Homo sapiens: one gene and its partners. The protein of the gene in region 4 interacts with the protein of the main gene of each other region in a pairwise test. Each region holds a gene or a part of one and is shown on either strand. Other genes may lie near its edges. The genes, in order: MEF2B, MIF4GD, CDR2L, HDAC4, ASB15, HAP1 and GRIPAP1.

Region 1 (4,154 bases), on a different chromosome or scaffold from region 4:
GTAATCTCAGCACCTTGGGAGGCCGAGGAGGAAGGATCTCTTAAGCCCAGGAGTTTGGGACCAGCCTGGGCAACATAGTGAGACATCCTCTCTTAAAAAAAACAAAATTAGCTGGACCTGGTGGTGGCCTGCCTGTAGTCCCAGCTGCTGGGGAGGCTAAGTTGGGAGGATTGCTTGAGCCTAGGAGGTCGAGGCTGCAGTGAGCTATGATCATGCCACTGCACTCCAGCCTGGGCAACACAGTGAGATCCTGCCTTGAAGAAAAAAACAAGAAAAACCTTTCTCCTAGTGGCAAACTCCTACACATACTTGAAAGCCCAGCACAAATGCCCTCTCTTCTGAGAAACCCTCCCTGACTCCTCTGGCACAGCCCTTGCCCCAATTCTGGCCTGTCCCAGCCTCCCATCCCTCCTCTGGCCCAAGCCTGACCCCACAGGGTTAGGGGAGTGCATGGATCCCCTGCCTGCCCCAGACGGGCCGGGGGCTTCTCCAGAAGTGCCCATCCCAGAGCCATCTTTATCCTGTAATTCTTTTCACATTGATACATTCACCAACCCCTGCTCTGATCTTCCTGTGGGTCTGGCCTGTGCTGGGATCCCAGGGGAAGGGGTGGATTTAGAGTTCTGGGCTGGGGTCCAATCCTGGAAGGCCCCTCACAGCTGACCTTTGAAGTTTAGAAAACAGCCTTTAGCGGGGAGAGGTAAGGAGAGGGAAGTGGTTGGTGGAAGCAGTGTGGTTGTCTTGGACTGTGGAGGGGCAGGCGGTGCGGGCTTGAGGGACCAGTAGCTGCGGAGGGTCTGTCACTCCCTGTGGGAGCACATATCTGGCCCCAGGAGGCACAGTTGAGTGAGGCCACACAGGCCACCCGAGAGCCCCGTCTTGCAGTCTTTCCATTCTAGCGAGCGCGAGGGTCAGCGTTGCCTGCGAGAAGGGCTTGGTTCCTCGGGGCGACGGGGTCCGGGATCGGAGTCTATTTCACTCAGGATGGAATCAATCCAGGCAAGTTGGGCCGAGTTAGGAAAAGGTTTAGAATTAGGGTTAGGGTCACAGTAGGGTCAGGGGTCGGCAGTAAGGTCAAGGGCGCCCAGTGAGGGCGGGGAAAGCCTGGCCAGTCTGATCCAGCCCCCTCCCTCCGTTCTGCTTCTTCCTTATCCGCGCCCCCACCCATGGCGCCCCAGCATCCTTTCGCGTCTGAGTCCCAGGCCCATGAACTCCCGGGTCGGGGCCACGCCCAAGTGCACGCCCATCGCCGCCTCCAGGGTGACGCCCTGTATGCAAATAAGCCCGTCCCGCCCAATCAGCTCCCGGGGGCAGGACCGCCCGCTCCCAAGGCACCTGCGGCCGCGGGCCCCTGATCTTCGTGCAGCCGCCGCGGGTCCGTGCGCCCAGCGTCCCAGGGCCCAGGCCGAGCAGGTGCGTGTCATATCGGGTTGAGACTCCTGTGGTGTCCTCTGAACGGCTTCTGCGGGCTGGGTGGGTTTTGGAGGTCCGGGTGTACTGCTGGGCGTCCCAGGGTGGGGTGTGTGTCTAAAGGGGTGTGTGTCGTGGGGTGGTGAGTCCCCGAGGTTGTGGCAGGAGGGGGTTGTGTCTCCAAGGGGTGTGTGTCTGAAGGGTGTGGGTCTGGAAGTTGTGTGTCCAAGGGCTCTGCGTCTGAGATTTGGTGTGAGTTGGGGAGTTGGAGAGTTAGCTGTGTGTCCAAAATCATGGTGCTGTGAGGCCCTATTATGTGTCTGTGAGCTCTGTGATGTGGCATGTGATGTCCCTCTCTCCTGGTGTGCACTCCTTTAGCATTAGCGCATCCCCTGTGCACAACCCTATGCCTTCTTGCTGTGGGTGTACACTCGTTTGTCACAGCAGGATGGTAGGCACAAAACCTTGGAACGGGGGAGCAACAGCTGCCGGGGCCAACTCTCCTCCCTTTGCCTCAATGGGTACAGGAACAAGAGTCACATCCCCGTGTGGTTGTTAGCACATGACAAGGTGGTGGCAGCATTACTTTCACGGTCACAGTCCTCCCTCCCTATCTCTTTTGGGGTCCAGGGCTGCAGATATGGGTGACCTGTGTCCTTGGCCACCCTAACCCCTAGTTGCAGACCCAATTAGTCAGAAATAGCTGGCCGGGCACTGTGGCTCATGCCTGTAATCCCAGCACTTTGGAGGCTGAGGCAGGAGGATCACTTGAGCCCAGTAGTTTGAGACCAGCCTGGGCAACATAGTGAGACCCCCATTTTCTTTTTCTTTTCTTTTCTTTCTTTGTTTTTTTTTTGAGACAGGGTCTCATCCTGTCGCCCAGGCTGGAGTACAGTGGTGATCTTTGTTCACTGCAACCTCCAGCTCCCAGGCTCAAACAATTCTCCTCCCTCAGCCTTCTAAGTAGCTGGGATTACAGGCGCGTGCCACTACCGCCTGGCTAGTTTTTGTATTTTTAGTAGAGATGGGCTTTCACCATGTTGGCCAGGCTGGTCTTGAACTCCAGACCTCAAATGATTCACCTGCCTCAACCTCCCAAAGTGCTGGGATTACAGGCGTGAGCCCCTGCACCTGGCTTTAAAAAAAAATTTTTTTTGAGACAGAGTCTCACTCTGTCACCCAGGCTGGAGCGCAGTGGCTCAATCTTGGCTCACTGCAACCTCTGCCTCCCAGGTTCAAGTGATTGATTTTCTGCCTCAGCCTCCCGAGTATCTGGGACTACAAGCGTGTGCCACCATGACCAGCTAATTTTTGCATTTTTTGTAGAGACGTTGTTTCACCATGTTTGCCAGGCTGGTCTCATGTGATCTGCCTGCCTCAGCCTCCCAAAGTGCTAGGATTACAAGAGTAAGCCACCGCATCTGGCCAAAAAAAATTGTTTTTTTAATTAGGCAGGTGTGGTGGCTTATGTGTATAGTCCCAGCTACTCGGGAGGCTGAGGCAGGAGGATCACTTGATCCGAGGAGTTCGAGTCTGCAGTGAGCTATGACTGAGCTACTGCACTGCAGCCTGGGTGACAGAGCAAGATCCTGTCTCTAAAAGAAAAACAAAAAGAAAGAAAAGAAACAAAAAAATGGCCAGGCGCGGTGGCTCACACCTGTAATCCAAGCACTTTGGGAGGCTGAGGCGGGCGGATCACCTGAGGTCAGGAGTTCGAGACCAGCCTGACCAACATGGAGAAACCCCATCTCTACTAAAAATACAAAATTAGCCGGCCATGATGGTACATGCTTGTAATCCCAGCGACTCAGGAGGCTGAGGCAGGAGAATCGCTTGAACCCAGGAGGCGGAGGTTGTGGTGAGCGAAGATCGTGTCATTGCACTCCAGCCTGGGCAACAAGAGTGAAACTCCATCTCAAAAAAAAAAAAAAAAAAAAAAGAAGAAAGAAACAAAACAATAATCAAGGCCTCAGGCTAGCCTGGCCAAGAATCATCCCTGGGGAAGGGCAGGGCCCCTGGACCTTGGGCATTCGGGACAAGAACTCTCAGACTCTTGGAGTGAAGGAAACTGGATACAAAAAAGTATTTCGACTTCGGAGAACCAGTGTGTGAGGACTGATTTCCAGAGATGAAAAGGGCTTTCTAAAAAGGCAGGCTTGTTCCCTCATGTCCCCTTCCTGTTGTTCAGTAAAGGGGGAAGCTTGGCCTCCAGCAAACAGAATTTCAGGACAGTTAGGATCTTGGGATGTCATCTTAGAGAGCAGGAAGCTGGTTTGCAGGAGGGAAGGCTGAGGCCAGGTAGTAACACTAGGCCCCTCAAAAAAGGATGGAGCTCAAGGCCATGCCTCAGTCCCCCAAGAGAACAGAGGCTGGGGTCACGAGGCCCAGCTTCCTCTCCCTCCTCTCTGTGTGACCCCCCAACAGGTGGCTGCCCCTCTCTGAACTTTGTGGCAGCTCCTGTGAGCGGAGCAAGCTGAACCCACTCTTGGCTTTCCCATCCCAACGAATGATTTATTTGGTTAAACTATGACCCAACCAGGTGGACATCTGGAAAATGCAAATTAAGAAGAGAAGGGGAATTTAAAACATTTGCTCACCCCAACTTGGGTGCAGTGAGTGTAGACATGTTGGGTGTTTGGCCTTCTGGAAGAGGTTTCTTTCTTTCTTTCTTTCTTTCTTTGTTTTTGAGACAGCATCTTGCTCTGTTGCCCAGGCTAGAGTAAAGTGGTGTGATCTCAGCTCAC
Region 2 (2,504 bases), on a different chromosome or scaffold from region 4:
AGCAGCAGCTCTAGACTCCCCTCCTATCTCTACCCCTAGATCCGGGTGCTGTGGACTTGGAGAAAGTGGCCAATGTGATTGTGGACCATTCTCTGCAGGACTGTGTGTTCAGCAAGGAAGCAGGACGCATGTGCTACGCCATCATTCAGGTTGGGGGTTGGGAGAGGAAAGGAAGCTGCTTTGAGGAAGGTGCTTCAGGAGTGGGCAGAAGGCCTGGCCTGCAGGACAGAGATGCACAGGGTCTAGCTCAAAGAGAGAGAGAGGCATAGGATGGGTGGGGTTACAGGGGCACCGCCCCCCACCCTTCACCTTCCTCTCCCTGGCTCACAGGCAGAGAGTAAACAAGCAGGCCAGAGTGTCTTCCGACGTGGACTCCTCAACCGGCTGCAGCAGGAGTACCAGGCTCGGGAGCAGCTGCGAGCACGCTCCCTGCAGGGCTGGGTCTGCTATGTCACCTTTATCTGCAACATCTTTGACTACCTGAGGGTGAGGCCCCGGCAGCCACCCTGGGAGGCAGACATGGCCTGTTTCCTGAGGCCCAGGTTGGACTGCTCCCCTTGGCCACTAAGCCTGGTGCTCTGACCCCTCCTCTTCCTCACAGGTGAACAACATGCCCATGATGGCCCTGGTGAACCCTGTCTATGACTGCCTCTTCCGGCTGGCCCAGCCAGACAGTTTGAGCAAGGAGGAGGAGGTGGGTGGCCCCAGCCCTGGCACAAGCACAGAAGGCTGCAGGATGGACAGTCCAGCTCAGCCGTGTGTCAGCCCACTGCTCACGGAGGTCTCTGAGGACTGTGTCACTTCTGGGGCAGGACTGTGGGGGTGTTTAAGGCCTGTCAGTTATAGGACAAGCTGCCAGGTCTGGAGTTTATCCAATAGAGAGCAGCCAAAACCTACTGGCTCAGTAGCTTCCTTCTCAGTCAGAAAGCCAACGTATGATGGCAGCTGTGCAAGCCATGGCTAGCTGTGGGTACAGACGGCCCCAAAGCCAAACCAGGGTCAGGCAGTGTGTGGGAGGCAGGAGAGTGGGATGAAGAAGTGGTTTGGAGACAGGCTTGAGTGGAGCCTGGCCAGATGAGGGACCTCAGGCAAGTCCCGGAACTCATTTCTTTCTGTGTAAGATGTGGAAGTACCCACTGGATGGTAAGGAGGGAGCAAGGGAATGAGTGTAAAGGCAAAGCACAGCACCTGGCACTTGGCAAATGCTGTGTGAGAGGCTGGCACTGCCCCAGTTCACTTGTGTTACCCACACTGTCGCCTGCAGGTGGACTGTTTGGTGCTGCAGCTGCACCGGGTTGGGGAGCAGCTGGAGAAAATGAATGGGCAGCGCATGGATGAGCTCTTTGTGCTGATCCGGGATGGCTTCCTGCTCCCAACTGGCCTCAGCTCCCTGGCCCAGCTGCTGCTGCTGGAGATCATTGAGTTCCGGGCGGCCGGCTGGAAGACAACGCCAGCTGCCCACAAGTATTACTACAGCGAAGTCTCCGACTAGGCCTCCAGATCAGGGCTTCCTCACCAGCACTGGCCTTTCTTCTACCCACCTCTAAAGCTGGCAGTGGAGTCTCTGCCTCACCCAAAGACTTTTCCCTTCCAGACTTTGAGTGTCTTCCCTTCTAGACTTTCCCATCTCCTGGTGAGATGTTTCCCACTTATGCCGTGGTCCTGCCCTGAGCCCCTTTCCCCACCACAACCCACCACGGCCAGGCAGAGAAGGGCAACTCCCAAGAGCCACTGCACTGTGTAACCATTAGTGCAACTACTACCTTGGTGCCTCAGTTTACCCATCTGTAAAATGGGTAAGCATAGCCACTGGTGGGATATTTTGGGATGTCAAGGGGTGGAGGCAGAGCACAAGTCACACCAGAAACTGCTTTTTATACATTTTGTATAAGGACAACTCTGGAAACAAGCCTATTTCCTCCAGCCAGTTTCACTGAATGCTGCACCACATGCTACACCAGTTCAGCGTGAGAATTTTCTAATAAATCTTTTCTGATACTAAAACTGCTTCCTTTATATATCCAAAGGTCCGCCCCAACCTAAGGGAAGAGAAAACAGCCCTGAGTTTCCTGGAGGAAATTCCCAAGTCAATGTGCTCCCTCTTTACAAGGAAATAGGGGCAGAGAGAGCAAGTTCCAGCCTCAAAGAAAGAAGGATTAACGGATAGTGAATATGCTGCTACATCTTTCTTACGAGGCCTGCCCACCCTTACAAAGGAACTACATCCTTAACCCACAGGTAGTTTTCAGCGTGGCAGTAGCTCACACTGTTTCTTGCGGCAGAGGGCCCTGGGCTCCTCCTGGAGACTCTACCACCAGCGGTAGTGGGCCAGGGCACGGTTGGCCTCTGCCATCTTGTGCAAGTCATGCTTCCTCTTGATCACGGGGCCCTGGTTATGGAAAGCCTCCAGCAGCTTGTGTGACAGCTTCTCCGGCATCAGTGTCCGCTGGTGCTTTTTATCCCGGCACTCAGTGATCATCCACTTCATGGCTAGGAAGCGGCGA
Region 3 (3,500 bases), on a different chromosome or scaffold from region 4:
CTCCTGAGTAGCTGGAACTATAGGTGCCTGCCACCATGCCTGGCTAATTTTGGTATTTTTAGTAGAGACAGGGTTTCACTATATTGGCCAGGTTGGTCTTGAACTCCTGACCTCAAGTGATCTGCCTACCTCTGCCTCCCAAAGGGCTGGGATTATAGGCATGCACCACCACGCCAGCCTCTTTTTTTTTTAAATTAATTAATTTATTTTTTTTGAGACGGAGTCTTGCTCTCTCGCCCAGGCTGGAGTGCAGTGGCGCGACATCGGCTCACTGCAAGCTCCACCTCTTGGGTTCACGCCAACCATTCTCCTGCCTCAGCCTCCTGAGTAGCTGGGACTACTGGTGCCCACCACCATGCCTGGCTAATTTTTTGCATTTTTAGTAGAGATGGGGTTTCACCGTGTTAGCCAGGATGGTCTCGATCTCCTGACCTCGTGATCTGCCCGCCTTGGCCTCTCAAAGTGCTAGGATTACAGGTGTGAGCCACTGTGCCCGGCCTTTTTTTTTTTTTTTAACTTCTAAAATCTTTTTTATGCCCGGCGTGATGGCTCACACCTGTAATCTCAGCACTTTGGGAGGCTGAGGCGGGCAGATCACGAGGTCAGGAGATGGAGACCATCCTGGCTAACACAGTGAAACCTCGTCTCTACTAAAAATACAAAAAAAATTAACCGGGTGCGGTGGTGGGCGCCTGTAGTCCCAGCTACTCAGGAGGCTGAGGCAGGAGAATGGCGTGAACCCGGGAGGCAGAGCTGCAGTGAGCCCAGATCGCGCCACTGCACTCCAGCCTGGGTGACAGAGTGAGACTCCATTTCAAAAAAGAAATAAATCTTATTTATTTTATTTATTTATTTTTAAGACAGGGTCTCGCTCTGTTGCCTAGGCTGGAGTGCAGTGGCACAATCACGGCTCACTGCAGCCTCAACCTCCAGGCTCAAGCAATCCTCTCACTTCATCCTCTTGAGTAGCTGGGACCACAGGCTTATGCCACCATAGCCAGCTAATTTTTGTATTTTTTATAGAGACAAGGTTTCGCCATGTTGCCTGGGCTCAAGTATTTCACCCACCTTGGCCTCCCAAAGTGCTGGGATTACAAGCATGAGCCAGCAGCCCCTTCTCCCCTTCTAAGGACAAGTTTGCTTTGATGTATTTGTCTTCAGCTGAGTGGGGCTTAAAAATGGTGGTTCAGGCTGGGCCTGGTGGCTCATGCCTGTAATCCTAGCACTTTAGGACGCTGAGGTGGGAGGATCACTTGAGCTCAGGAGTTAGAGACCAGCCTGGGCAACATGGTGAGACTTGGTGTCTATTTAAAAAAAAAAAAAATCTAGTTGTGCAATAGGGCTGCCTGAGATAGCTGTGCTATCCTTGTACAGGATAGCACAGTTGTGAACTGTACCAGGCTATTGGGCTAAGGCTGTGTCCGATAAGCTGGCACCTTATTCTAAGTTGCATAAAGGCACACACAGGCCAAGGGGCCCTCGAGGGGTGTGGGCAAGCACATGCAGGGCCCTCACCTCGATCTCCTGCACCTGTTCCTCATTGGTGGAGTACATCTGCTGCAGGGACCCCTCCAGCTCCTTGTTCCTCTCCAGCAGAGTCTTCCCCAGCTCCGCAGCTAGGTGCAAGTCTAGGATAGGAGAAACACGAGCATGAGAACAAAGGCAGAGGACGCCCATTCATGTTCCGAGCATCTACTCTAGGTGACCCCAATGTAACCAAGACACTGGGAGCCTCCAGGCCTGGGAGGAGAGGTAAGCCAGGAGCTAAGCCTTTGCACTGTTATTTCTGCCTGGAATGTTCTTTTTGTGTGTGTCTGTGTGTGTGTGTGTGTGTGTGTGTGTGCAAGATGTAATAAAAAACAAACAAAAATAGGAATGGTTGCTTTCAACATTTTCCAGGTTGTGAAAGTTTTGCCACGATTCTCAGGGGTGTGGTTCTAAGCTGCATCAGTGGAACAAATACAAAATGCTGTCCTCCTCCTAGGCTGGAAGGCAGTGCACCTTCTCCTCTTAACAGCCAGACTAGCGGGTGAGGAGTCAGTGCTGTGCCCAGGCCAAGCTGGAGTGTCCGCATGGCTTCTTCTCTGACCAGTGGGGATTCCATCTACCTTGAGGCATGCTGGCTGGGCCCTGTTTCCACACCAGCGCATGGTGAGACAGCGTAGCTTATCAACAGGCTGCTGGGCCTTAATACTGACAGTGAGTGTGGCGGATCACAGCCAGGAAGGGACTAACACAGATGCCCTCCCAGCCCCACTGCTGGCCTAATTTTAGAATACCACGGAAAAAAGCTTTGATGAAGACAACAGGAAGTCAACACAGCAGAGAGTGGTGTGGACAACCCAGAAGCCAGCCTCACGCACGGAATATTCTTTCCTGATACTTCCAGGACTTGTTCCCTCTTCTCCTTCAAGTCTGTGCCTGTCAACTTCTCTAGATCTTTCCCCAATCACTTGATTCAAAGTCACACTGTTCCCTGCCCTGCAGTCTCTCCCCCGCTTCATCTTTCTCCTTAGCACTTAGCACCATCTAATTTCCCAAGCAAGTTACTCCTTTATCTTTTTCAGCTCCCCCAACTAACTGTGAGCTCATGGGGCAGTTTTTTTTTTCTTTTAAGGGATGGGACCCAGGCTGGGGTGCAGTGAGTATTCACAGGTGTGATCATATGTGCTGCAGCCTTGAACTCCTGGGCTCAACGATCTTCCTCCCTCAGCCTCCCAGGGCAACATAGTGAGACCTCATCTCTATTAAAAAAAAAAGAAAGGTGGTGCAATACGGCTGCCTGGGATAGGATCCCTTGAGCCCAGGAACTCAAGGCTACAGTGTATATGATCATGCCTGTGAATAGGCGTGGGACTATAATATCGGTTGCTGGGACTACAGGAATAGTACAATGTTTTTTTTTTGAGACGGAGTTTTGCTCTTTTTGCTCAGGCTGGAGTGCAGTGGCGCGATCTTGGCTCACTGCAACCTCCGCCTCCCAGGTTCACGCTAACCATTCTCCTGCCTCAGCCTCCCAGGTAGCTGAGACTACAGGCGCCCGCCACCATGCCTGGCTAATTTTTTTTTATTTTTAGTAGAGACGGGGTTTCACCGTGTTAGCCAGGATGGTCTCAATCTCCTGACCTCGTGATCCACCCGCCTCGGCCTCCCAAAGTGCTGGGATTACAGGCGTGAGCCACCGTGCCCGGTACTTTTTTTTTTTTTTTTTTAACTTCTAAAATCTTTTTTATGCCGGGATTACAGGCACCCACTACCACGCCCGGCTAATTTTTTGTATTTTTAGTAGAGAGGGGGTCTCACCATGTCGGCCAGGCTGGTCTTGAACTCCTGATCTCAGGCCTCCCAAAATGCTGGGATTACAGGCATAAGCCACCACACCTGGGCTAAAATTCTTAAATTTTTTTTGTAGAGACAGGGTCTTGTTATATTGCCCAGGCTAGTATTGAACTCCTGGCCTCAAGCGACCCTCCTACCTTGGCCTCAAAATGCTGGTATTA
Region 4 (3,500 bases):
TATGAATTTTACATTTTTCCTCACCATTTAGCAATTTTCTGAATGGTAATAATGTCTAAATCTTTTTCCTTTCTGAATTCTTGCTTGTACATTTTTTTTTACCTTTCAAAGGTTTTTAATTATTTTTGTTTTTATTTTTGTACGATGAGTTTTCTGCAGCGTACAGAATTGTTGCTGTCAGATTCTATTTTCAGAAAGTGAGAGGAGGGACCGTAGGTCTTTTCGGAGTGACACCAACGATTGTGTCTTTCCTGGTCTGTCCTAGGAGCTGTATAAAGAAGCCCAGGGGCTCTTTTTAACTTTCAACACTAGTAGTATTACGAGGGGTGGTGTGTTTTTCCCCTCCGTGGCAAGGGCAGGGAGGGTTGCTTAGGATGCCCGGCCACCCTGGGAGGCTTGCCAGATGCCGGGGGCAGTCAGCATTAATGAAACTCATGTTTAAACTTCTCTGACCACATCGTCAGGATAGAATTCTAACTTGAGTTTTCCAAAGACCTTTTGAGCATGTCAGCAATGCATGGGGCACACGTGGGGCTCTTTACCCACTTGGGTTTTTCCACTGCAGCCACGTGGCCAGCCCTGGATTTTGGAGCCTGTGGCTGCAAGGAACCCAGGGACCCTTGTTGCCTGGTGAACCTGCAGGGAGGGTATGATTGCCTGACCAGGACAGCCAGTCTTTACTCTTTTTCTCTTCAACAGTAACTGACAGTCACGTTTTACTGGTAACTTATTTTCCAGCACATGAAGCCACCAGTTTCATTCCAAAGTGTATATTGGGTTCAGACTTGGGGGCAGAAGTTCAGACACACCGTGCTCAGGAGGGACCCAGAGCCGAGTTTCGGAGTTTGGTAAAGTTTACAGGGTAGCTTCTGAAATTAACTCAAACTTTTGACCAAATGAGTGCAGATTCTTGGATTCACTTGGTCACTGGGCTGCTGATGGTCAGCTCTGAGACAGTGGTTTGAGAGCAGGCAGAACGGTCTTGGGACTTGTTTGACTTTCCCCTCCCTGGTGGCCACTCTTTGCTCTGAAGCCCAGATTGGCAAGAGGAGCTGGTCCATTCCCCATTCATGGCACAGAGCAGTGGCAGGGCCCAGCTAGCAGGCTCTTCTGGCCTCCTTGGCCTCATTCTCTGCATAGCCCTCTGGGGATCCTGCCACCTGCCCTCTTACCCCGCCGTGGCTTATGGGGAGGAATGCATCATCTCACTTTTTTTTTTTAAGCAGATGATGGGATAACATGGACTGCTCAGTGGCCAGGTTATCAGTGGGGGGACTTAATTCTAATCTCATTCAAATGGAGACGCCCTCTGCAAAGGCCTGGCAGGGGGAGGCACGTTTCATCTGTCAGCTCACTCCAGCTTCACAAATGTGCTGAGAGCATTACTGTGTAGCCTTTTCTTTGAAGACACACTCGGCTCTTCTCCACAGCAAGCGTCCAGGGCAGATGGCAGAGGATCTGCCTCGGCGTCTGCAGGCGGGACCACGTCAGGGAGGGTTCCTTCATGTGTTCTCCCTGTGGGTCCTTGGACCTTTAGCCTTTTTCTTCCTTTGCAAAGGCCTTGGGGGCACTGGCTGGGAGTCAGCAAGCGAGCACTTTATATCCCTTTGAGGGAAACCCTGATGACGCCACTGGGCCTCTTGGCGTCTGCCCTGCCCTCGCGGCTTCCCGCCGTGCCGCAGCGTGCCCACGTGCCCACGCCCCACCAGCAGGCGGCTGTCCCGGAGGCCGTGGCCCGCTGGGACTGGCCGCCCCTCCCCAGCGTCCCAGGGCTCTGGTTCTGGAGGGCCACTTTGTCAAGGTGTTTCAGTTTTTCTTTACTTCTTTTGAAAATCTGTTTGCAAGGGGAAGGACCATTTCGTAATGGTCTGACACAAAAGCAAGTTTGATTTTTGCAGCACTAGCAATGGACTTTGTTGTTTTTCTTTTTGATCAGAACATTCCTTCTTTACTGGTCACAGCCACGTGCTCATTCCATTCTTCTTTTTGTAGACTTTGGGCCCACGTGTTTTATGGGCATTGATACATATATAAATATATAGATATAAATATATATGAATATATTTTTTTAAGTTTCCTACACCTGGAGGTTGCATGGACTGTACGACCGGCATGACTTTATATTGTATACAGATTTTGCACGCCAAACTCGGCAGCTTTGGGGAAGAAGAAAAATGCCTTTCTGTTCCCCTCTCATGACATTTGCAGATACAAAAGATGGAAATTTTTCTGTAAAACAAAACCTTGAAGGAGAGGAGGGCGGGGAAGTTTGCGTCTTATTGAACTTATTCTTAAGAAATTGTACTTTTTATTGTAAGAAAAATAAAAAGGACTACTTAAACATTTGTCATATTAAGAAAAAAAGTTTATCTAGCACTTGTGACATACCAATAATAGAGTTTATTGTATTTATGTGGAAACAGTGTTTTAGGGAAACTACTCAGAATTCACAGTGAACTGCCTGTCTCTCTCGAGTTGATTTGGAGGAATTTTGTTTTGTTTTGTTTTGTTTGTTTCCTTTTATCTCCTTCCACGGGCCAGGCGAGCGCCGCCCGCCCTCACTGGCCTTGTGACGGTTTATTCTGATTGAGAACTGGGCGGACTCGAAAGAGTCCCCTTTTCCGCACAGCTGTGTTGACTTTTTAATTACTTTTAGGTGATGTATGGCTAAGATTTCACTTTAAGCAGTCGTGAACTGTGCGAGCACTGTGGTTTACAATTATACTTTGCATCGAAAGGAAACCATTTCTTCATTGTAACGAAGCTGAGCGTGTTCTTAGCTCGGCCTCACTTTGTCTCTGGCATTGATTAAAAGTCTGCTATTGAAAGAAAAAGAAAGCGAACAGTTTTTGTTTGTTTTTTTTGCCGTGTGTGCTCCATAGTGGAGGCGCTATTTTCCAATTGATGAGAATGACAAACATATATAATCTATCTATCTATCTATCTATCTATCTATCTATACAGGGGGCTTGAACCTTACTCACCCAAGAGCTTCTTACGGAATGTGGTAGAAAACCAAGTTGTAACGACACTGTAACCTACCTGATGCCTGTTCGCGCCCGCCGTGAGCTGCGCACTGGCCGTGGCCACCATTCACCTCTGTAATTTAATCCGTTTCTCTTGGATTGTCTGGACGTGCCCGATGGTTCTTTCTTTTGCTCAGTGGAGTTGGAGGTTTTGTGTTTGGTTTTCTCATTCTTGTCTTGTTTTGTGTGGGTGGATTTTCACCGACCAATGATATCCTCTTCTGACGGTCACCTTCTTTCCACTTCACTGGAGTCCAGTATTCTGTACCACATCACGCAACGTGTTATCTTGTGGTGTAAATAAAGACTGCGTTACTTGCCCTCCCAGCTCTGGTTTCTGCCCGTGCGCTCTCTTCCTCATTGGCTCTCGCATGTCTGGGACCCTGTGGGCCGAATGGCCAGTGCCCTGGGTCCCATCCGGATGGCTGCATGGGAATCACTGGACCCCATGGGGACGGCCCCTAGACCCAGACC
Region 5 (3,500 bases), on a different chromosome or scaffold from region 4:
TGTTCATGATTTATCCAAGTTTGCTTAACAATATTCAGGTTTTCTTAATATTAAGGTTGTTTAAAATTTTTTTTTAAGTGATTCCTCTGTGAACAGGAGCTGTGATGGTTCTTAACTAGTTATGACCTTTAACGTCTTTCTCTGTGATTGCTGGTAAATAATCTTACATCCTTTCCTCCCTCTCCTCCTGCTCCTGCTCCTCTTCCGTCTCCTCCTCCCGCCACACAGACAACTTCATAATGGCTCTTCCCTCTTGAACATCTATTAATGTGAGAGCTTTTATATATTTTTTCTCTAATTTTCCTCACAATTCTGCATGGTAGGTGTTGTATTTCCATTTTATACTTGAGAAAACTGAGGCCCATGATTGCAATTCACAGCTAAGATTTAAACCCAGTGATCTCACGTGCCAACACCACATTCTTACTCCACCACCCTGTGTCCCTAAGAGAAAGGAAATGTTATCTCTGGGTCATTTGGAGTTAATCTTATCACTCTCTGCTTTCACAAACAGACTTGCCAATTCTTATTGTTCAGCAAATAGCGGGATATACAAGACAGAGCTGGTAAATGTCACCTTCAGATTTCCCATTCTTCCCTCGTGTCACAGTGTACCCCTCATAGGTGCCATGCTCTGCATCTGTGTGCTCAGAATCTGCTGGCCTCCCTTCCTTCCAGGTTCGCCTGATCAGTCTGATGTGAACTTGATGTCTCCCTTTGGAATCCCTTTCCACCTCTTGCTTCTGGCTACATATGGCACATGCAACCCTCCTTACAACTGGATCCTACCTAGAGAATATTCCTTTAAAATTGCTATCTCTGGCTTCAAAAAACTAATTCAGATCCCTCCTGGTTAGTTGCAGTCTCTACAACTGGATACTGAAGGATGTAGCCATCTTTCATATTTGACATCCTTGTGGGATAGGAAAACAAAATCACAGGACAGAAGACATGGGGGTTAGGCAAGTAGCTCAGGGAATGGAAGGAACTGAGATCACAATTTTAGCCATTATACAGTGGTTTCCAATAAATACTTATTCTTTGTTTCAAACTATAAAAGTTCTAGAAAAAAAGGTCATTTACCAATCAGAAGGGGGGTCTCTCCTTTATCATTTTTTGTGTTGGGCCACACTCCCTTTTCTAATAAAGTTCTTACATTTTCCACCAGACCAGCTTTGACTGCCAAAGTCAAGGGTGTTTCTCCATCACAGGTCTTGAATTCCCAGAGTGTCTTATAGGATGCTGTGACATGAAAGCATTATGTTGAAAAGTTGAAAATACTCACTTATAGGATATTACACAAATCAGAGCAATCCAATATTATATACATCGGATTGAACAAAGTCAATTGATGAAAATGAAAGGACTTTGACAAAAGTTTACCAAATGACGGTGAGGATAAAGTAGATGCACATGGACTTGCTAATCAAATTGACAGCTAGAAAACCAAAAATCTGTTTCTAGCTGCTTTTTTGAAAATGATGTGCTAAGTCTCATTTCTTGATACATTACAAAACAATGTTTCAATCCTTTGTATTATAATTTATATTGTAACTGAAATTGTTTTTTTGTGAAATGAAATCTGTGAATGTGGGAATGGAGAATGTACTTGAATGTAGGTATCGCTGTGTCAAAATGATCCTTAACATCATCTATATCTGTCTGTCTGGCTGTCTAGTTTTCTAGATGGCTGGCTTATAATCAAGTATGTATCTCCCAGAACATAGAGCTGTCATGCAACAGTGGAAGCTGAACGATAGGGCACTCTCAAAAGTGTTCTGTAAGATGCTGAGATGTGAAAACACTGTATTAGAACATAAAAGTTACTGTTAATATTTAACAGTGGCTTGATTTGCCATAATATTTTTTAATGCTTACATTATGAAAAAAATCAATGTAATGTAAAGACCAGTATTGTCAGTACTCCCTGTTGTACTATATAAGAATCTTTTGGAAACTGTTAACTCAAGAGATAGTTCAAAATGAAAAATTTAAAATTGATTTCCAAAAGAAAAGTGTTATATATGACTCAATTAATTCATGATATATAGAAACTTTTATCACTTTTATGTGATAACCACATCTTTCCACCAACCTGTGTCTCATTCATAGGTAAAAGGATGCAAAAGGTAAACCCCCAATGTCAAAAAAATTCCTAATTTTTATACTCTGAGTTTAAAACATGGGTGCTGCCTTTTTCAAATTCCAAATAATATTTTAATCTGCCTTTTCTTTCTGCTAGTTATGTTCACTGAAAACACTTATAACATCAACATATCAACATTCTTGCTCTGGCTTGGTCAAACATGTTTTATGTTCTCTTACCATCCAGAACAATCTCAAGTATTTGTTGAATGGGTTGAACAACAGCTTCATGCAATGGAAACCATCCTTTTTCATCAGCTTCATCCATTGCATATTTATATTTTACATACTCCTGGAGCTCAGGAATGTGACCTAAATTAAACACATGGACTGATGACTAATCTCTGTTTTTGCAAGGTGGAATCTCCAGTCCATCCCACTGTAGATAGTACACCCATTTACCTTGTTTTATGGCCTCCACAAGTTTTCTGTTTTGAGCACTTAGGGGTACAAATCTATGAGATAAAGAAAAATAATATTTATACTAGATACTAGTGATATAGTTCAAGGAACCAAACATTTTAATTTATATTGCATTTTTAAACTTAATTTTAATAATCAAGATCCAAAGGAGATGCATATAATTGATTTTATCTCCTTAAAAAGTAAATGTATGGGAGTCAGACACAGAGTATATTTATGATGCATTGATCTAAGAATATTAGTGAAGATGGCAAAATAGAAGATTACAATGCTATCTCTGAGATATCTCAAAGCAATAAAAAAGGAGTAAACAATTGGAGTCAGATTCAGAGGAGCTAGGTTCAATTCCCAGCCTGATTTTGTGATTCTGGGGAGGCCAATTAGCCTTTCTGGATGTGGGTTCTTCATCTGCAAAATGATGGAATTAATAGAAAGATCTCTAGGTTTTTCTAATTTTAAACACTCTATGCTCAAAAAATGTTTTTTGCTTTGAACTTAATAATTGCTAATAAGATACTTACTTGGGAGCTTATGGTCTAAACTACATATGCGAGTTTTAAATCAACTGTTCCACAAGTGAAAATAGGCAGGGCATTTACTGAACAAACTCCCAATCACTGGCCCAGCAGGTCATGATTTAAACCCTCATGGAGGTTTTCTGGTGTGTGTGTTTGTTAAGTGGAAAGAAGGAATTCCATAACAAATTTACTTAACTCTGTTAAGCAGAAACATCTGCTAGCATACCAGGGTTGTGAATGCCTTCCAGGAAGCTCTGAAGTTCTAAAGCTTGTTGGAGATAAGGGAGAAATTCCAGACCAGAAATTTCAGTGTACTACGTCTATTTTTTCAAAGCTCAAAAGCAACAATTTTTAAACACTGGATCTCTTCAAAAGTACTACTAAATTCCAGAATACAAGATTTTAAACACTATA
Region 6 (4,131 bases), on a different chromosome or scaffold from region 4:
CCTGCCAGCAAGCACATCACCTGTGTCCCTCTTAACAAATGAGGAAATTGAGGCTCAGAGAAAGGACTTGCAGGTGCAAAGGCAGGAACTCACAGCTTAGGGGCATCACAGGGATGAGCACACTGCAGGTCTTCCTCTGCTTCTTCTTCTTCCTGTTCCTCTTCTGCCTCCTTTTCTTCCTCCTCCTCTTCTTCATCCTCATCCTCCTCATCAGAATCTGAGTAGAGCTGGAGGAGCTCATCCCGCAAGTTCACCTGGTGTCTGAGGTATAAAATCTGGCAGGAAGAGAGAGGAGCCATGGGTTGGGAGTGGGCAGGGACAGGAGAGGGTCCTGGCATGAGGCAGGTGTAGATTGGCCCGCTATCCTCTCCTCCCCACCCGGTTACCTCCTCCTTGGCTGAGCCCAGCAGGGCTTCCAGCTTGCTGTTCTCCTCCATCAAAACACTGTTCTGTTTCACCAGGGACTGGCCGATGCGAGCTGCAGTGTTCAGGTCCCTCTCTCTCTGCAGGACCATCCCATAGGTAACGCTCTCCCAGACAGGTGGGAGAAGCTGGGGGGGACACAGGGGTCAGAGAGAGGCTAGGCCCCTAAGAGAACCTTCCCCATCCCCTAGTTCTCTAGGGTACCAGACCAGAGTCTGCCATTAACCCACTGTGGAACCTGGCTCAGTTTCCCCTCATGGAAAAAGAAGATCAGACCAGATTGGCTCTGAGAGCTCTTCCAGCCTGAACATCCCACATCGACCTGTCTTCCATAAGAAGGACCCTAACCTGGGGCCCCAGAGAGACTGCCAATCAGGAAATAAACAAGACCCCCACCCCTACAGGACAAAACTAGAATAAGGGCTTGCCTGGATCAGGAAGGCAGTACACACCTCCTCCAGCAAATATAACATCACTTTGACGTCTTCCTGGGTGATCTTTTTGACTGGCGGAGGTAGGTTAGGACACAGTGCTGCAGGAGGCGGCAGGTGGGGAGAAAAGGCCCAGCCAGGTCAGGAAAAAGGAGCAGATGCTACCAGCAAACAGCTGTTTCCCGTCCTATCGTCAGTTCTCCAACAAGGGTCATCGGGAGAGAAGACTGGGCTCCCCTCCTGCCCCCCACATCCTCCCCTTACCCCTCGGCACTCAACACTCCCTTCCCTGCTCCCAGGGCCAAGTGGACAGGGTTTTTAGGTTTTTGGGTTTTTTTTGGTTTTTTTTTTTTTTGGTTTTTTTTTTTTTTTAGACAAAGCCTTGCTCTTGTCCTCCAGGCTGGAGTGCGATGGCGAGATCTCAGCTCACTGCAACGTCTGCCTCCCAGATTCAAGCAATTCTCCTGCCTCAACCTCCCGAGTAGCTGGGGTTATACACGCCCGCCACCACGCCCAGCTTATTTTTGTATTTTTAGTAGAGACGGGGTTTCACCATGTTGGCCAGGCTGGTCTCGAACTCCTGACCTAGTGATCCGCCCGCCTCGGCCTGCCAAAGTGCTGGCTGGGATTACAGGCGTCAGCCACCGCGCCCGGCTTTTTTTTTTTTTTTTTTTTTTTTACCCCTGGAGGAGCCTGAGGTAAGGGGGTCACAGTCCTCCAGGCTCAGAAACTGGGCTCTCCGGACACCTGGGTCCCTGGCGCCTAGAATGGAGACAGCCAGGGGAAGTACAGCCTCAGACTGGCTCATCACCCCCTACCCAGGAGGCAGTGCAATGGAGTCTCCTGGGTCATACAAACAGACGCAGCCACTCACCCTGCACCTGTTGCGTGTGCAGAGGACAGGAGGAAGACTTCACCAGATTAGGAGACACTCGAGCCTCTAGGCCCAATCCAGAGATCTCCCCCGACCCGCAGGAGGATAGGAGAGACAAGGGGCAGGAAAAGAGCGCGACTTTGCCCCCATACCCGCAACCAAAAAGTGGGCAAAACTTCCCCCTCCGCCCGCCCACCCACCCCTCCATCGCACGCAAGCCCGGTCGGCCAGCGCAGACTCAGAGCGCGCGGGACAGCGCCCTCCCGCAGCCCCCCGCCCCTCTCCTGGCACTGCGGTAGACCCAGGAGAGGGGCGCTGAAGGGGTGCAGATCTGCCGCAGCAAGAGGCGCGTGGAGGTGGGTGGGCGAGCGTGCAGGCCCCAGAACCTGACTCACGGGCACAAACCAGGGGACAAGAGCAGAGGAGGAGATGGAGAAGGGGCGACCAGACAGACACCGCAGTGACATCGCGGGGGTGGTGGACGGGTGACACTGAGTGCTAGAGGGGGCGGGGTGCCTGGACCCGATGGGGCCACTTCCTCCCTGGAGTTGCCCCAGTCCCCACCCGGTCCAGGACCCCGGGGGCCCGATTTACCTTCCTCCAGCTCCCGAATAAAGGCGGCGCGCTCAGGGCCGGACACCCCGGGTCGCCGGCCAACGTAGGCGGCTGGCGTCTTCCAGATGCCCGCTGCCTTTCCAGTCCCCCGGCCAGTGGCCCGGGAACCAAACGGCCCTTGGAATACGAAGCGGGTCCACGGCGCGTCCGAATTGTCGGGCATAGACCGGACATCCCCTTGGATGGCCGAGAATGCGGACGGGCGCCGGGCTCCTGCCTTGGCTCCAGCCTCCGAGGCCGGGCGAGCTCCGGTGCGGGCTTCCGAGAGGAACTGGGATCCAGAGGTGGCTCGGGATCCTACTCTCTGTCCAGTGCCCCGTGCCTGCGGCTGCGCAGAGGGCTCCGGAGCGGGACTGGCTGAGGGCGAAGGTGCACAGGTGAGTGCTGCTGGGTCCCCGGGTCCGAGCCGGCTCCCCGCGCAGCACCGGCCCAACCTCTTCGGGCGCATCTCGAGTCTGCCGTCCGCTGCTGCGGCGGGACCTTTATAACCTGCGCCAGCCGCCGGGCCGGACCACGCGTAGGGGTGGGGGCTGCCGAGAAGCAACTAGTGGCAAGCGGGACTCAGAGCCGCGCGGGAGGGGAGCTAGTGGTGACGGAACAGAGCACAGTAAGAAAAGCAGGGCAAGAAGGGCGAGTGCAAGTTCCGGATGGCTCCGAGTTGGGATGGGAGCGAAAGATTTTTTCTGCCCTCTCCATCTCCGGAGAATGGTTCTGCCCAAAGCCGCGGCTGCCCCAGCACTCGCGGGTCCCTGGCTGGGGGCAGCCCCTCCCCAGCTGCCGCGCCGGGGTTTCGGGTGCCTTCCCTGGTGTAGAAGCTGCCAACCCAACGTTGTGCATACGGTCTGGGGTGGCCAGTGCATTAGGGCAGCGCTGCGTCTTTCCCGGTTGACTGGGAGAGACATTCCAAACTCCAGTGCGCTTCCAACGTGCTGCAACCCTGCCTGGCGCTGCAACCCTGCCTGGCGCTGCAACCCTGCCTGGCGCTGCAACCCTGCCTGGCGCTGCAACCCTGACCCTCGCGCTCACACCCCAGTGCTCGCGCCACTCGACGTCTTCCATTTGATTGGATTAACTGTTCTTCACCTCCAACCCTAGTTCGCTTTGCCCTCCTCTTGCCATGCTGGCGAACCCCTGTTCTCCTTGGGAGACGCCTCTTAAAAGTCTCCCTGTAGCCGGGCGCAGTGGCTCACGCCTGTAATCCCAGCACTTTGGGAGGCCGGGGCAGGCGAATCACCTGAGGTCAGGAGTTCCAGACAAGCCTGGCCACCTGGTGAAACCCTGTCTCTACTAAAAATACAAAAATTAGCCAAGCATGGTGGCGTGTGCCTGTAGTCCCAGCTACTCAAGAGGCTGAGGCAGGAGAATTGCTTGAACCTGGAAGGTAGAGGTTGCAGTGAACCGAAATTGTGCCAATGCACTCCAGCTGGGGCTACAGAGCGAGCCTACCCCTCAAAATAAATAAATAAATAGAATACTTTTTTTTTAAGTATCCTACTGGAAATGTTGGGTAGACAATTAGATGTATAAATCTGAATGTAGGGGAGAGACCGGGCTGGAGATTTAAATGTAGGAGTCATTGTTCTTTGATGACCATTTAAAGCTATGAGACTGGTGAGATCCCCAAGAGACTGAGAGAAGACAGGTAAGAGCGCCCAGGACTAACCCCCTAGGATTCAGAGGGCAGAAAGAAGAAGAGGAGGCATCAAAGGAAGACTGGGATGAGTGGGGCAGTGAAGTAGAGGAAAACCAGGAAAGTTGGGTCCTAGAAAGTAAAGAAAATGTTTCATG
Region 7 (3,500 bases), on a different chromosome or scaffold from region 4:
TACCTGGAGCTGGGAGTTGAGGTCATCTTTCTGTCCCATAAGGTCCTCGTACTCAGCCTGCTGCTGCTGCAACTCAGCTGCCAGCCCAGTGGTCTGTTCCCGGAGCATATTCAGTTCTTGGGTCTTTGCTGTTTGGATCTGGAGAAAGTAGTGGTGATGAGAAGTAGAGTGAAAGGGACCCCAGGGGCCAGGGACAGGGTATGAGCCCCCTAGTTCCAGGGAAACAGGGAGGGAGGTGGGAAGAGAACCAGGAAGAGAGAGGAAATTTCAAACAGAAAAACAATGAAGAGAATGGGTAAATGTGGTATGTTCATACAATGGAATACCACACAACAGTAAGAGAACAGATCTGTGCTGCCACGTGGATAAACTTACATAGTGCTGCCAGAAAGAAGTCAGAGACAAAGAGCAGCTGATTCCATTTATATGAAGTTAAAGAACAAGCGAAATGAATCTTATGTTGCTAGAGATCAGAATAATGGTTACTTCTGGGGGAGTACTGACTTTGAAGGGGTAAAGGGGACCTTCTGGGGTACTAAAAGTGCTTTATACTTTGATCTGGGTGGTGGCTATGGTGGCGGGGAGAGAGAGAGAAAAAAAAGAGAGAGACGAAGAGAGGATTCACTGAGTGTACACTTAAGATTAGTACATTTCATGCACTTTACTAGAGAGAAACTAGAAACAAAGAAAAGCAGAAGCCGGGCGCGGTGGCTCATGCCTGTAATCCCAGCACTCTGGGAGGCCGAGGCGGGTGGATCATGAGGTCAGGAGTTCGAGACCAGCCTGGCCAAGATGGTGAAACCCCGTCTCTACTAAAAATACAAAAATTAGCTGGGCATGGTGGCACACGGCTGTAGTCCCAGCTATTTGGGAGGGCTGAGGCAGGAGAATCGCTTGAACCTGGGAGGCGGAGGTTGCAGTGAGCCGAGATCGTGCCATAGCACTCCAGCCTGGACAACAAGACCGAAACTCCGTCTACAAAAAAAAAAAAAAGCAGAGATAGGCCAAGCACAGTGGCTCACACCTATAATCCCAGCACTTTGGAAGGCCGAGGTGGGAAGATAGCTTGAGGCCAGAAGTTTAAGCCAGTCTGGGTAACATAGTGAGACCCTGTCTCTACAAAATAATTTTGTTTTCTCTTTTTTGAGATGGAGTCTCACTCTGTCACCCAGGCTGGGGTGCAGTGGCACAATCTCGGCTCACTATAACCTCCACCTCCCAGGTTCAAGCAATTCTCCTGCCTCAGCCTCCCGAGTAGCTGGGATTACAGGTGTGCGCCACCATGCCCAGCTATTTTTTTTTGTATTTTTAGTAGAGACGGGGTTTCACCATATTGGCCAGGCTGGTCTCGAACTCCGAACCCCAGGTGATCCGCCCGTCTCAGCCTTCCAAAGTGCTGGGATTATAGGCGTGAGCCACTGCGCCTGGCCTAATTTTTGTATTTTTAGTAGAGACAAGGTTTTGCCATGTTGGCTAGGCTGGTCTCAAACTCCTGATGTCAGGTGATCCGCCCACCTCTGCCTCCCAAAGTGCTGGGATTACAGGTGTGAGCCATCATGCCCGGCCAATAAGTTTTTTTTCGTTTTGTTTTTTGTTTTTTTGAGACAGAGTTTCACTCTTGTTGCCCAGGCTTGAGTGCAATGGCACGATCTCGGCTCACCGCACACTCCACCTCCTGGGCTCAAGCAATTCTCCCACCTCAGCCTCCCGAGTAGCTTGGATTACAGGTGCCCACCACCACACCCAGCTAATTTTGTATTTTTAGTAGAGACGGGGTTTCTCTATGTTGGTCAGGCTGGTCTCGAACTCCTGACCTCAGGTGATCCGCCCTCCTCGGCCTCCCAAAGTGCTAGGATTACAGAATTGAGCCACCATGCCCGGCTTTTTTTTTTTTTTTTTTTTTAGACGGAGTCTCGCTCTGTTGCCCAGGCTGGAGTGCAATGGCACGATCTCGGCTTACTGCAACCTCCGCCTCCTGGGTTCAAGAGATTCTCCTGTCTCAGCCTCCCGAGTAGCTGGGATTACAGGCACACACCGCCACACCCAGCTAATTTTTTGTATTTTAGTAGAGATGGGGTTTCACCGTGTTGCCCAGGCTGGTCTTGAACTGAGCTCAGGCCATCCACACATCTTTGGCCTCCCAAAGTGCTAGGATTACAGGCATGAGCCACCACGCCCTTTTTTTTTTTTTTTTTTTTTTGAGACAGAGTATTGCTCTGTCGCCCAGGCTGGAGTACAGTGGTGCGATCTCGGCTCACTGAAACCTCTGCCTCCTGGGTCCTGGTTCAAGCAATTCTCCTGCCTCAGCCTCCCCAATAAAATTTTTAAAAGTTAAAAAAAAAAAAAAGTAGGGATGGATGGCCAGAGAGAAGAGGGCTGGACGCCAACAGAAAGGAGCAACAGAAACAAAGACAGGAGAACAGCATGGGGTCCAGACCACCCTACCCTGATGTGGACCAGAAGCAGATGGAGATGGGGGAACTGGAGAGGGATCAGCAAGGGCCCCCAGGTGTTCTTTACCTGCTCCAGGGCAGCCAGGCTAGTCCTCAAGGCATTGTTCTCAGCCAAAAGCCCTTCCACTTGTTCCTGTGCATCTGCACTCTGGATGGATACCTGGCCCCACGTCCACAGCAGGTGAGAGTGGGTCCAGAACAGGGGGACAGGACCTACCCACGACCAAGAAAGAAAGGACACACACACACACACACACACACACACACACACACACACACACACACACACACACGAAGGCCTGGGGGAAGCAGGATCCCTGGGACCTTGCCTGACTATGTAGTACCCACTCAGGCTGCCCCCATCCTGAACCCCAGCTCCCTGAGCCCACGCAGTACAATATACCTGATCTTGTAGGGCCCGCAAAGCTGCTGCATGTTCCAGGCGCTCCCCCTGCCGCTGATCTCTCAGCTCTGCCAAGCTCTGTGGAGACCAGGGGAGCCCATTTTACACCTCAGCCTCTCCTGGGGTGCATATAACCGTACAGACTCTCTGTTTGACCACCCAGCAGCATGTTCTCAGCACCTGTGGGTCTCAGACTATCCAGCCAACAGCAATCTCAGGTTCACCCAGACGCCAGGTCACTACCCTCAGGGGCCTCAGACACAGTCAACCCCTCTATCCCAGCGTACAAGATCTCAGGCACGACTAGACTCCTGGCCCTAGCTGCTACGCGGTTCAAACTCACTCAGCTCCCATCCATAAGAAGTCTCATGCTCACCCAGATTCTAGCTTGGGAGCTCCAGGATTCTCAGACACAGTCAGCCCCATGGATCTCAGATGTAGTCAGCACCCAAGGATGACAGTTTCACCCAGCCTCCCAATCCCAACCACCAGGGGTTTCAGACACACTCATCTCCCACGTCCCTACTTCCCAGGTGAGATCCACCCAAACTCATAGTCCCAGATCCTAGAGGTCTCAAACTCACAACCTCCTAGTTTCCAGGTCCTGGTGAACTCTCAGACTGACCCCTTCACCTGTCACTCTG

What was found.
Region 1: the proteins of HDAC4 (region 4) and MEF2B interact in binary tests that used the Homo sapiens proteins (3 or more experiments, as listed by UniProt).
Region 2: the proteins of HDAC4 (region 4) and MIF4GD interact in binary tests that used the Homo sapiens proteins (3 or more experiments, as listed by UniProt).
Region 3: the proteins of HDAC4 (region 4) and CDR2L interact in binary tests that used the Homo sapiens proteins (3 or more experiments, as listed by UniProt).
Region 5: the proteins of HDAC4 (region 4) and ASB15 interact in binary tests that used the Homo sapiens proteins (3 or more experiments, as listed by UniProt).
Region 6: the proteins of HDAC4 (region 4) and HAP1 interact in binary tests that used the Homo sapiens proteins (3 or more experiments, as listed by UniProt).
Region 7: the proteins of HDAC4 (region 4) and GRIPAP1 interact in binary tests that used the Homo sapiens proteins (3 or more experiments, as listed by UniProt).

What each region holds. Positions count from the first base shown.
Region 1 is NC_000019.10:19,167,464-19,171,617, reverse strand, and holds the start of MEF2B (myocyte-specific enhancer factor 2B), read left to right. Parts: upstream 1-1,354; 5' UTR 1,355-1,413; intron 1,414-4,154. UniProt on the Homo sapiens protein: Transcriptional activator which binds specifically to the MEF2 element, 5'-YTA[AT](4)TAR-3', found in numerous muscle-specific genes. Activates transcription via this element. May be involved in muscle-specific and/or growth factor-related transcription.
Region 2 is NC_000017.11:75,265,728-75,268,231, reverse strand, and holds the end of MIF4GD (MIF4G domain-containing protein), read left to right. Parts: intron 1-39; coding exon 40-149; intron 150-330; coding exon 331-486; intron 487-601; coding exon 602-694; coding exon of another isoform or gene 695-781; intron 782-1,264; coding exon 1,265-1,492; 3' UTR 1,493-2,004; downstream 2,005-2,504. Other genes in the region: MRPS7 (small ribosomal subunit protein uS7m), read right to left, coding at 2,309-2,504. UniProt on the Homo sapiens protein: Functions in replication-dependent translation of histone mRNAs which differ from other eukaryotic mRNAs in that they do not end with a poly-A tail but a stem-loop. May participate in circularizing those mRNAs specifically enhancing their translation.
Region 3 is NC_000017.11:74,997,632-75,001,131, reverse strand, and holds part of CDR2L (cerebellar degeneration-related protein 2-like), read right to left. Parts: intron 1,629-3,500; coding exon 1,516-1,628; intron 1-1,515.
Region 4 is NC_000002.12:239,048,021-239,051,520, reverse strand, and holds the end of HDAC4 (histone deacetylase 4), read left to right. Parts: 3' UTR 1-3,353; downstream 3,354-3,500. UniProt on the Homo sapiens protein: Responsible for the deacetylation of lysine residues on the N-terminal part of the core histones (H2A, H2B, H3 and H4).
Region 5 is NC_000007.14:123,615,321-123,618,820, reverse strand, and holds part of ASB15 (ankyrin repeat and SOCS box protein 15), read right to left. Parts: exon of another isoform or gene 3,421-3,500; intron 2,601-3,420; coding exon 2,548-2,600; intron 2,458-2,547; coding exon 2,326-2,457; intron 1,244-2,325; exon of another isoform or gene 1,243-1,243; coding exon 1,084-1,242; intron 1-1,083.
Region 6 is NC_000017.11:41,731,844-41,735,974, forward strand, and holds the start of HAP1 (huntingtin-associated protein 1), read right to left. Parts: upstream 2,801-4,131; 5' UTR 2,792-2,800; coding exon 2,323-2,791; intron 956-2,322; coding exon 876-955; coding exon of another isoform or gene 852-875; intron 552-851; coding exon 387-551; intron 276-386; coding exon 94-275; intron 1-93. UniProt on the Homo sapiens protein: Originally identified as neuronal protein that specifically associates with HTT/huntingtin and the binding is enhanced by an expanded polyglutamine repeat within HTT possibly affecting HAP1 interaction properties.
Region 7 is NC_000023.11:48,985,265-48,988,764, forward strand, and holds part of GRIPAP1 (GRIP1-associated protein 1), read right to left. Parts: intron 2,935-3,500; coding exon 2,857-2,934; intron 2,614-2,856; coding exon 2,521-2,613; intron 139-2,520; coding exon 4-138; intron 1-3. UniProt on the Homo sapiens protein: Regulates the endosomal recycling back to the neuronal plasma membrane, possibly by connecting early and late recycling endosomal domains and promoting segregation of recycling endosomes from early endosomal membranes.